2 linked regions of the Homo sapiens genome follow. The protein of the gene in region 1 purifies or fractionates together with the protein of each later gene. This does not show direct contact. Each region holds a gene or a part of one and is shown in the gene's direction. Other genes may lie near its edges.

Evidence for each region. Proteins that work in one complex are often made in the same cells at the same time.
Region 2: the proteins of TIA1 (region 1) and PITPNB fractionate together in Homo sapiens (co-fractionation; one large-scale study listed by BioGRID). This does not show direct contact.

What each region holds. Positions count from the first base shown.
Region 1 is NC_000002.12:70,209,802-70,214,795, reverse strand, and holds part of TIA1 (cytotoxic granule associated RNA binding protein TIA1), read left to right. Parts: intron 1-301; coding exon 302-447; intron 448-1,950; coding exon 1,951-2,077; 3' UTR 2,078-4,994. UniProt on the Homo sapiens protein: RNA-binding protein involved in the regulation of alternative pre-RNA splicing and mRNA translation by binding to uridine-rich (U-rich) RNA sequences.
Region 2 is NC_000022.11:27,853,257-27,856,756, reverse strand, and holds part of PITPNB (phosphatidylinositol transfer protein beta isoform), read left to right. Parts: intron 1-1,817; coding exon 1,818-1,865; 3' UTR 1,866-1,903; intron 1,904-3,093; coding exon of another isoform or gene 3,094-3,144; 3' UTR 3,145-3,500. UniProt on the Homo sapiens protein: Catalyzes the transfer of phosphatidylinositol and phosphatidylcholine between membranes. Also catalyzes the transfer of sphingomyelin.

The sequences.
Region 1 (4,994 bases):
ACCAAACACTTAAACATTCTACTAAGTTTAACATTTATTACTAGGGTATCAACTGATGCCTTCCAAAAACTATGCCATTCAGAGTATCACGTAGAGTTACAGCAGTATAACCTCACTTGTTTTGTTGTTGTTTTTTGTTTTTTTTTTTTTTTTTTTTTTTTTTAGCAGTCAACTCTTGTTTATCCTGTCATTTTAATTGTAATGATGGCCCTGTGTGTTTTGGCTAAGAATTTGTGGTATCAGCATATTAGGATTGTATATATATAGTTAACTTCAAGTAATACTAAATTTTATTTAATAGCAGAATCAAATTGGATATCCCCAACCTTATGGCCAGTGGGGCCAGTGGTATGGAAATGCACAACAAATTGGCCAGTATATGCCTAATGGTTGGCAAGTTCCTGCATATGGAATGTATGGCCAGGCATGGAACCAGCAAGGATTTAAGTAAGCATATCTTATGTCTTCCTTTACTAACCTTTGAAAATGTCTAAAGAAATTTTAAGTAGGAAGAAATTTTAAGAATTAGTGGGTAATAGGGCCTCTTATGTAAAGCGTAACTATAGCCTTGAAAGAACTTAAAATTGTTTTTTAGTAAGAAAATAAGAGCTTAATAGTTGTTAAGCTTTTCACATGACTAATGGTCACTTAGCCATTCTTATATACACTGAGTTTGATGCTAGTTGTTGTATTCATTATGCTTTTTTCTGTACAAAGGGTTTTTTCAATATGCCTTGTTACATTGCAAGCTTCCTTATACACCCTGAATTACACTATTTTACTTACATTTCTGAAAAACACACTGGAAATAAAAATACTTGAGAGGTTAAAAAGGAATTTAGTGGGCTGGGCGTGGTAGTTCCTGCCTGTAATCCCAGCATTTTGGGAGGCTGAAGTGGGTGGATCACTTGAGGCCAGGAGTTTGCGACCAGCCTGGCCAACATGGCGAAACCCCACCTCTGCTAAAAATACAAAAATTAGCCAGGTGTAGTGGTGCACACCAGTAGTTCCAGCTATTTGGGAGGCCGAGGCAGGAGAATCACTTGAACCTGGGAGGCGGAGGTTGCAGTGAGCTGAGACTACACCACTGCACTCCAGCCTGGGCAGCAGAGCAAGACTCTGTCTCAAAAAAAAAAAAGGATTTTGTGGTTGGGCATGGTGGCTCATGCCTATAATCCTAGCACTTTGGAAGGCCAAGGCAGGCGGATCACTTGAGTCCAGGAGTTTAAGATCAGCCTGGGCAACATGGCGAAATCTCATCTCTACAAAAGGTACAAAAAAAATTAGCCAGGCATGGTGGTTGCGTGCCTATAATCCCAGATGTTCGGGAGACTGAGGTAGGAGAATCGCTTGAGCCTGGGGAGACGTAGGTTGCAGTGAGCTGAGATCATACCACTGTACTCCAGCCTGGGTGACACAATGAAAACCTGTCTTAAAAAAAAAAAAAAAAGAAAAGAAAAGAAAATCTTGTAATGTTATGAATTTTTATGAGCTTTCATATGCTAATAATTGTTTTGATTTCTTCTTTGAGTAGTATAATGTTCCTTTTTCGTTGTAGGGAACCTACCTGACTCTTTCAGGTAGTGGTTTCCTCAGCAAATATGTTCAACCAAGGCATAGAGATGAGATGGATAGCTTTCTTTTCCAAGAATGGGGTTAGGTTTTTCTATATTCAAAGGAGATGAATGTTGATAAGTTCAGGGTATTTTCTTAGCTTTAATTTCTAACAAAATTAAACTGTCCAAATTAAACATACAGGGATGCTTGTTTTTAAGAGAAAAAAACTTTAGTAAAAGATTTCATTTTCCCTAGCATAAATTATTCTATTTGGGATTAAGAAAAAGTATGTTTCCCATTTCCCATATTTGTTCTTGTTGTTTGTTCTTGCCAATACTTTATTTTAATCAGTGGATTTCCTCTCCCCTCTGCTTCTTTCACATTCTCCACCAGTCAGACACAGTCTTCTGCACCATGGATGGGACCAAATTATGGAGTGCAACCGCCTCAAGGGCAAAATGGCAGCATGTTGCCCAATCAGCCTTCTGGGTATCGAGTGGCAGGGTATGAAACCCAGTGAATAAGGACTCCAGAATCTAAAGCCAGTGGCTTGAGGCTACAGGGAGTGTAGTAAAGCCGTTGTTTACTTAAAGATTTATCAAATCAGTCAGTGCAAATGTCAGATACAATGTATTTATTTAAAAGATTCATTTTTAATCATGAAATTACTTATCATCCACATTGTTTTAAAAAGAAACAAGATGCTGGATGTCTGCCAATTTTTGCCTTCATTACCTTTTTTGATAAAGTTTCTCAGATCCTTGTTTCAAACACAAATGCAGGGATTGCTGCCACTTTTTAACTATTAAGAGGCAGAAAATTGCACAATATTGAACTTTTTTCCACTGAAGTAGTGTGCAGTTCTAGTTTGCATTCCTGATATGATTTAAAACATGTAATATAAAGATGTTAAAAAAAAAAACCAAAACTGTGCAGAGTCTAGAAGTTGTTTGTCATCTTCAGCTTGTGCACAATTCTGTTTTAGGTTAAAAAAAGGCATTGTTTGAGCTGTCCCATCTCCACTGTTATCCCTTTGGGGTTTTTTAATATAAATTATTAGTTTACATCATTTTTGTATCTACATCTTTTTTCACAAATTTGTCTTGCCTTATTAAAGTTCTGTAAAATATACTTAAATGGAAAAAATGATGTTCATTTAGATTGAAAACTTTTCTCAGATGGATTGATAATTGCATTCATCTTGTGTTTTATATGAGAAGGTGCCTCAAGAATTTCCTGTTGGATTTGTTTAAAAGGATTTTTATCTTTCGTGATAAACTTTGCTGTGTACCAGGAACTATAAAAACAAAAACTTGTTACTAAAGAAAATATCTGAAATGTGATAAGTTCTTATGCCATGTTAATTTCATGTGTCAACTTCAACATTTACATGTATTATTTCATTATGTAAAATGTTTTAGCAATTTAATATTTTGCACAGTTAGCAAACTTTGTATGTCATTTCCTTCAAGGCATCATGCAGAGTTGACATGAGATTTATAAGGTTTTAAGTTGTTTGCATGTGAAAATCAAATACATACTTTGGTAGTCTTTGAATACAAAGTCATCTGCTCTTGTTTTTCAAGAATTTTGAGACACAAAGTTGTATGTAAAGGAATATATTAATTTGCCGTTTTCTAGGTAGATTTGCTCAAAAAGAGTGAATCAACTTAATATGTACAAATGATAGCTGTGAAACTGTAGAATATCTTTGTGTCAGGCTTGGAGTTCATTGTGACCTCCAAATTTTGCCTGAAGGACCAGCTGGGCAAAGCATCTTTTAAATGTTCAGAGGCCAAAAGATAAACAAAAAAAAAACCTTAAAATCCTACCTCTTTAAACAGCCTTCAGATAAGAGAATCCTCAGTGCAATCATTATTTTGATTCGTTTGGTACCTGTTTTCCTGGAGTTCCCGATTTTATTATTTTGGGGTGGCTCCAAGCATTAAGAGGTTTAATCTTTGATGGCATTGTTCTAGTTTTGAAATTTCTAGTATATTTCAGAGTCTCTTAGAAGACTTGTGTGGGAAGTTTCACTTTGTTTTCAGTGAAGATCACAAACCTCCTTCTTCCTTTACTCAAGAGGAAAGGTCCCAGTATACATATTTGAATGGTTGATGGTTTTCAAGACCTTCAGGGAGCTCCCTGCATTTTACCTAGAAACAGAAAAGGCCCGCAAAATCTTAAGTTTCCTGGCCTGCATTTCCCGGGTAGGGGCAAATGACTCCAAGCTGGTCTCTAAGCCAATACCCTTATAAACCAGAGCCCAGGAAAGACAGCTCGAGTGTATAATTCTCTGGAGCTCAATTCTATGCAGTTGTGCTGATATTTCATTAAGTCACTGTGTATTTTTAAGTGTTGATACATTAAAAGTCGCTTTATGGAAGATGAGTAAATTTTTTAAATACTTGGAAATTTTATTTCCTTGTTAACTTCTACAGATCAGGGCATGCAACCAAAAGCAGCTTAAATGAAATATTTTAAAATAAAATATCAGGAAGCTATTTTTAGATTTCTTCTGGCTTATGTTTCTACTTTAGGACCCTCATTGTTCTCTTATTAAAAAAAATTATTTCCTGTGCATCTCATGGACTGCAGGGTAAATTATTTGGGCATAAATAATTTAAATAGTTTTCTTTCATTTTGACTATCTCCAGTAATAACAGTTTTTATTATCCAGCATATTGGCTTATTGCACAAATCTTAAAATGTACATTGACTACTTTCTGAGAAGAAAGTGGTATCAGTACTCATGATGAAAAGGTTACTACTGAACAAATTCACATTTCAGGAACACCTCTATCTTTGGTTTAAATCTTACTCTTAGTTTTTCCGTCTAAAAATCATACTGGTATTAGTATCAGGTAAGGAAATTAAAGTTTTTAAAATGGTTTCATTCTCTGCAATATGCAAAATTTAGATTTTACTTTCTGGTACTGTAAAGAACCTGAAGTGATTTACACTTAATGGGTGATTAATCCAGTATTCTTTACCCTGAATGTTTGGATATTAAAGTTCCTTTATGTTTTCTATAACCTGTGGGATCTTCTTGCAGTGATTATTGTGTGTGAGATTTTTTTTCTTTTTGGTCTATCCATATTGTTATATTCACTCAGGTATTTTTTTTTTAATCTTATTCCAGAATCAGTGGTTTATATTGGGTTACTGTTTAACACCAAATGGAATTGGCATTCTGCAGATTTAATTAATTATGAAACCAGGGTCTCATTTTCCTTGCTGATACTTGTTGAAAATGAGATTCACATTCTAGTCTTTATTTTCCTCCTGTTTTGTCCCTGTGCTTGTACATCTTCCTTTTATTTGTGTGTTATAGTTCTATTCCATTTGAGAAGGCAGTTGGTAAGAACTAGATTGCATGTACAAAGACAGGTTTACTAAGTGCTGTACAGTGGTCCTGAGGTTACAGTTGAATTAGA
Region 2 (3,500 bases), on another chromosome or scaffold:
AGCAGCAAGAGACACCCAAACACGCTAAGCCCATGATGCAGCACTGGCATTTCCTACAAGGATTTACCAACAGCTCAAACCCTTGGGAAAGAGCCCTTCTCTCAGTTTTTAATTTTTATGCTGAAGAACTGTGTGTCACATGGGGAAGAGTAGTTACCATTGACCAGGTGATAAGCCCTATCTGGTTTGGACTCTAAACCCTACCTATCTCTGGACCCCTTGGACAGAACTTGACTGAGATTTCTTCCCCCAGGGAAGTGCTCTTGCTTCTCTAACAAGTCCTCAGCCTCACGATACCTGAACACAGAATGGTCCCAGCCTCAACACGCTGTGACCCTCCGCTGTGGAGCTGGTGACTCTTGCTCTCACCTATGGCAGTGGGCCTGCAGGTGCAGCTGCTGCTCCATGCAGATCAGTTATTTGTGAGTTGGGAATTGCACTCGAGAAGAAGGTGTAAGATAGACAAGTAAAAGCCCAATTCCTTAGTGTCACCATTCTTATACCCACATTGCTGAAACTGATTAACCCCCTCATAAAGCTGGTGGAAAATCTATCATTGGTTCAGAGTGAGGGTACATAGCAGTTGCTTTGTCAAATATCTCAAAAACATTTTAAGACAAATTTCACCATTAAGTGGTGCATCTTAACGTTGAATCCCATTTAAGTTATTTTGCTGTAGGTCATTGGGGAGTGCTTGGTTCCACACACAGAATCAAGATGCTGCTGCTTTGAGTCCTAATGGTGGCTTTGTGAAAGCATCCTCAGAATCTGGGCAGCATCAAGCCTGCAGGCCAAGAATGCCTACCCAGAAAGCACCTGCCTCCTGAAGAGGCATCCCATTTTAGAGTCCTCTTCACACGCAGAAATTTCTTTTTCCTTGAGGTCCTGACCCCTGACACCTGATGATAGATTTTAATGACATTATAATGCTCTTAATTCACAAATATTTTAAGAATTGGATTTCTTTCAAATGGGTTTTGGCCCTGGAGAGAACTAGCATCTTGAGAGGTTAGGCACACGAGGAATGCCCCTGCCTATGATCTGCAGGGAACTGCCCTGGAGTTGAGGCTCAGCAGCTGAAGGAGGACTTTAGGTAAACATTTTACCTGTTTGTTCTTAACTGGCACCTCCGGTTCCGGGGTGGGGGTGAGGATGTGTTGAGTTTTAACGTATTTATTGCATTTGTTTGTTTTCTGTTCATTTCGTTTTTTGTTTTCTCATTGAGTGGTGTCACTTGTCTGGAGGCTATTGTTATGAATGCCTGTCCTTTCTAATACATCTGTGTGCCCTTCATGGTTTGCCATACATTGTTTCTGTGCTTGCCTTTTCTCCCTTTCATTCTCCCTCCTTGCCTTTTCTCCCTTTCATTCTCCCTCCTTTCAGTAAACTTCCTTTAAAGGACTCCACTGAGAGACCCTGTTCTCAGAAGCAGCAAAGAGGTGTGGCCCACACCCTCATGGCTTGCTTGTCTGGCCTAGGGACTATGCAAATATGGACCAGACCCTTGGGGTATTTTCTCACATTATATTGGCAAACAATTTGTTTACCCATTGGCTGTTTTTGATAATTTTTTATCAGTCTGCAGGCTTTTGTTTTTTACAGTTAAGGATAGATAAACCTTTTTTGTGCTAAGAAAAGCCTTTTGCAAGAATGTCTTCAAACCAAGGTTATTTGAGGGGCCACAGAACTTCATTCTTAATGTGGATATGGTTATGAACATCACTTCATAATCTCTTCTAGATCTTTTTTCTCCCCTTGCTTACTAACCCCTATTTAGAGTCTGATTTCAGCAGCTCACAATTTTATTTTACGTTTAGATGCGTAAGAGGGGTTCCGTTCGAGGCACGTCGGCTGCTGATGTCTAGATGAGTCCCCTGTAGGGTCAGAGACAATGTCAAACTGTGTAAGTGAAGACCTGGGTAAAAAGATGTTTCGAAACCTGTACCTTTTTGGTGATGGGCAGTTAACTTGCTGAGCAGAAGCTCTAAGTGTTAAATGTGGTTTTATTTTTAGAATTTAAAAGATAAATATTTTAGAAATTAATAGTGAACACTTATTAATAGTCTTTAAAAATTTTACCTGTGGACCAGGTTGAATTTAGTAATCCTGGGTTAGTTTTTAGTGTTATGGGTTAGAACCCAGCTGCCAGGTGCTGTTACTCATCATGTAGCACATTGTCCTGGAAGCCAGCTGATTTTTCAATACTGAGTTAATTGACCTGGTTCTTTGTAGAACCATTTGTGGTTAGTAAGGAAATATGCAAAATCACTTGAGATCAAATAAAGATCCTCTATCCCATACCATACGAGCCAACCTCAATAATTTATTTTGGCTGCAATATTTTCTGTGCACCAGAAAGTCTTCCTTGATATTTCGTCTTCAGTTGTTACAGTTAGCTTTACTCTGCGTAAATGCACTTTAGTTTTAATTTATGGTGTGAACCATTTTTGTGGTCTTATTTCTCTAACACATTATATGCCCATATAACAAATTTTCCCAGAGATGCAAAAAAAAAAAAATCAAAATCTCCCTCACAAATTGAAACCAGTGTGAGTAAACAAAAATCAACAGTGTGCTGTCATCATTTGTTTATACTGAACTATAATGTTTATTATAAAGAGAACGAGATGTAGCACTCCCCTCCCTCCACTGTGGTTCTTTGCTGCCCCACATGAGCTACCTGCTCTTTAATTTTTGAACATTGGGATGAATGAAATGTTCAGTTGTGAGAAAAGCTAGTTGTGCCAAATAAGAATGAAGTAACTCTTCCAAGATTCCCCCCAAACACTTTTAAATTCCATGTTCATTAAAAAAAAAAAAATTTAAGTTATTGTTACTTTTGTTAAACTCTCCTAAGTTTTTGTGATTTATTTCTGCCTCGACTTTATTTTCCCCTCTGATGAGACAATATATTGTGGCATTAGTAGTAAGACCAAAATCTTTTTGAACAGATGAAAATTGTAAGATGCAGTAGTTGGGGTACATTTTCTGCCAAAAGTTTTGATGCATTTGGAGAGTGTGTGTGACGAGCTGCTAACATTTCCTGTCTCTGTATTTTAACACATTTTGCACTGTCTTTCACTTTTCTTACAGTTACGTAATCAAGGTCAAGTGAGGGGAACAAGCGCAGCCAGTGATGAGTGAAGAAGAATCTGACCAGTATCTTGCAGTGTTGACGTTTCCCAGATGTGTGCTTGTGATGATACACACACATGCACAGGTTCTCAACCACGTGTGTATATATGTATGTGTGCATATGTCTGTAGCTGTATATAAAGCGCATGTAGAGCTACAGATCCAGATACACACACTTGTGTATATATGTACATACAGACATACTGAAGGGATTAGTACAATTTCTCCAAAGTACTGTACCTATCTTCAGCAAGAATGCAAAAGAAAATATTTTCAATATATATACCTGGAACAGATTTTAATAATTATCAGAGTAATACCATTAATGGACAAATTGACTGCAATGTAATACTAGCTGGTATGTT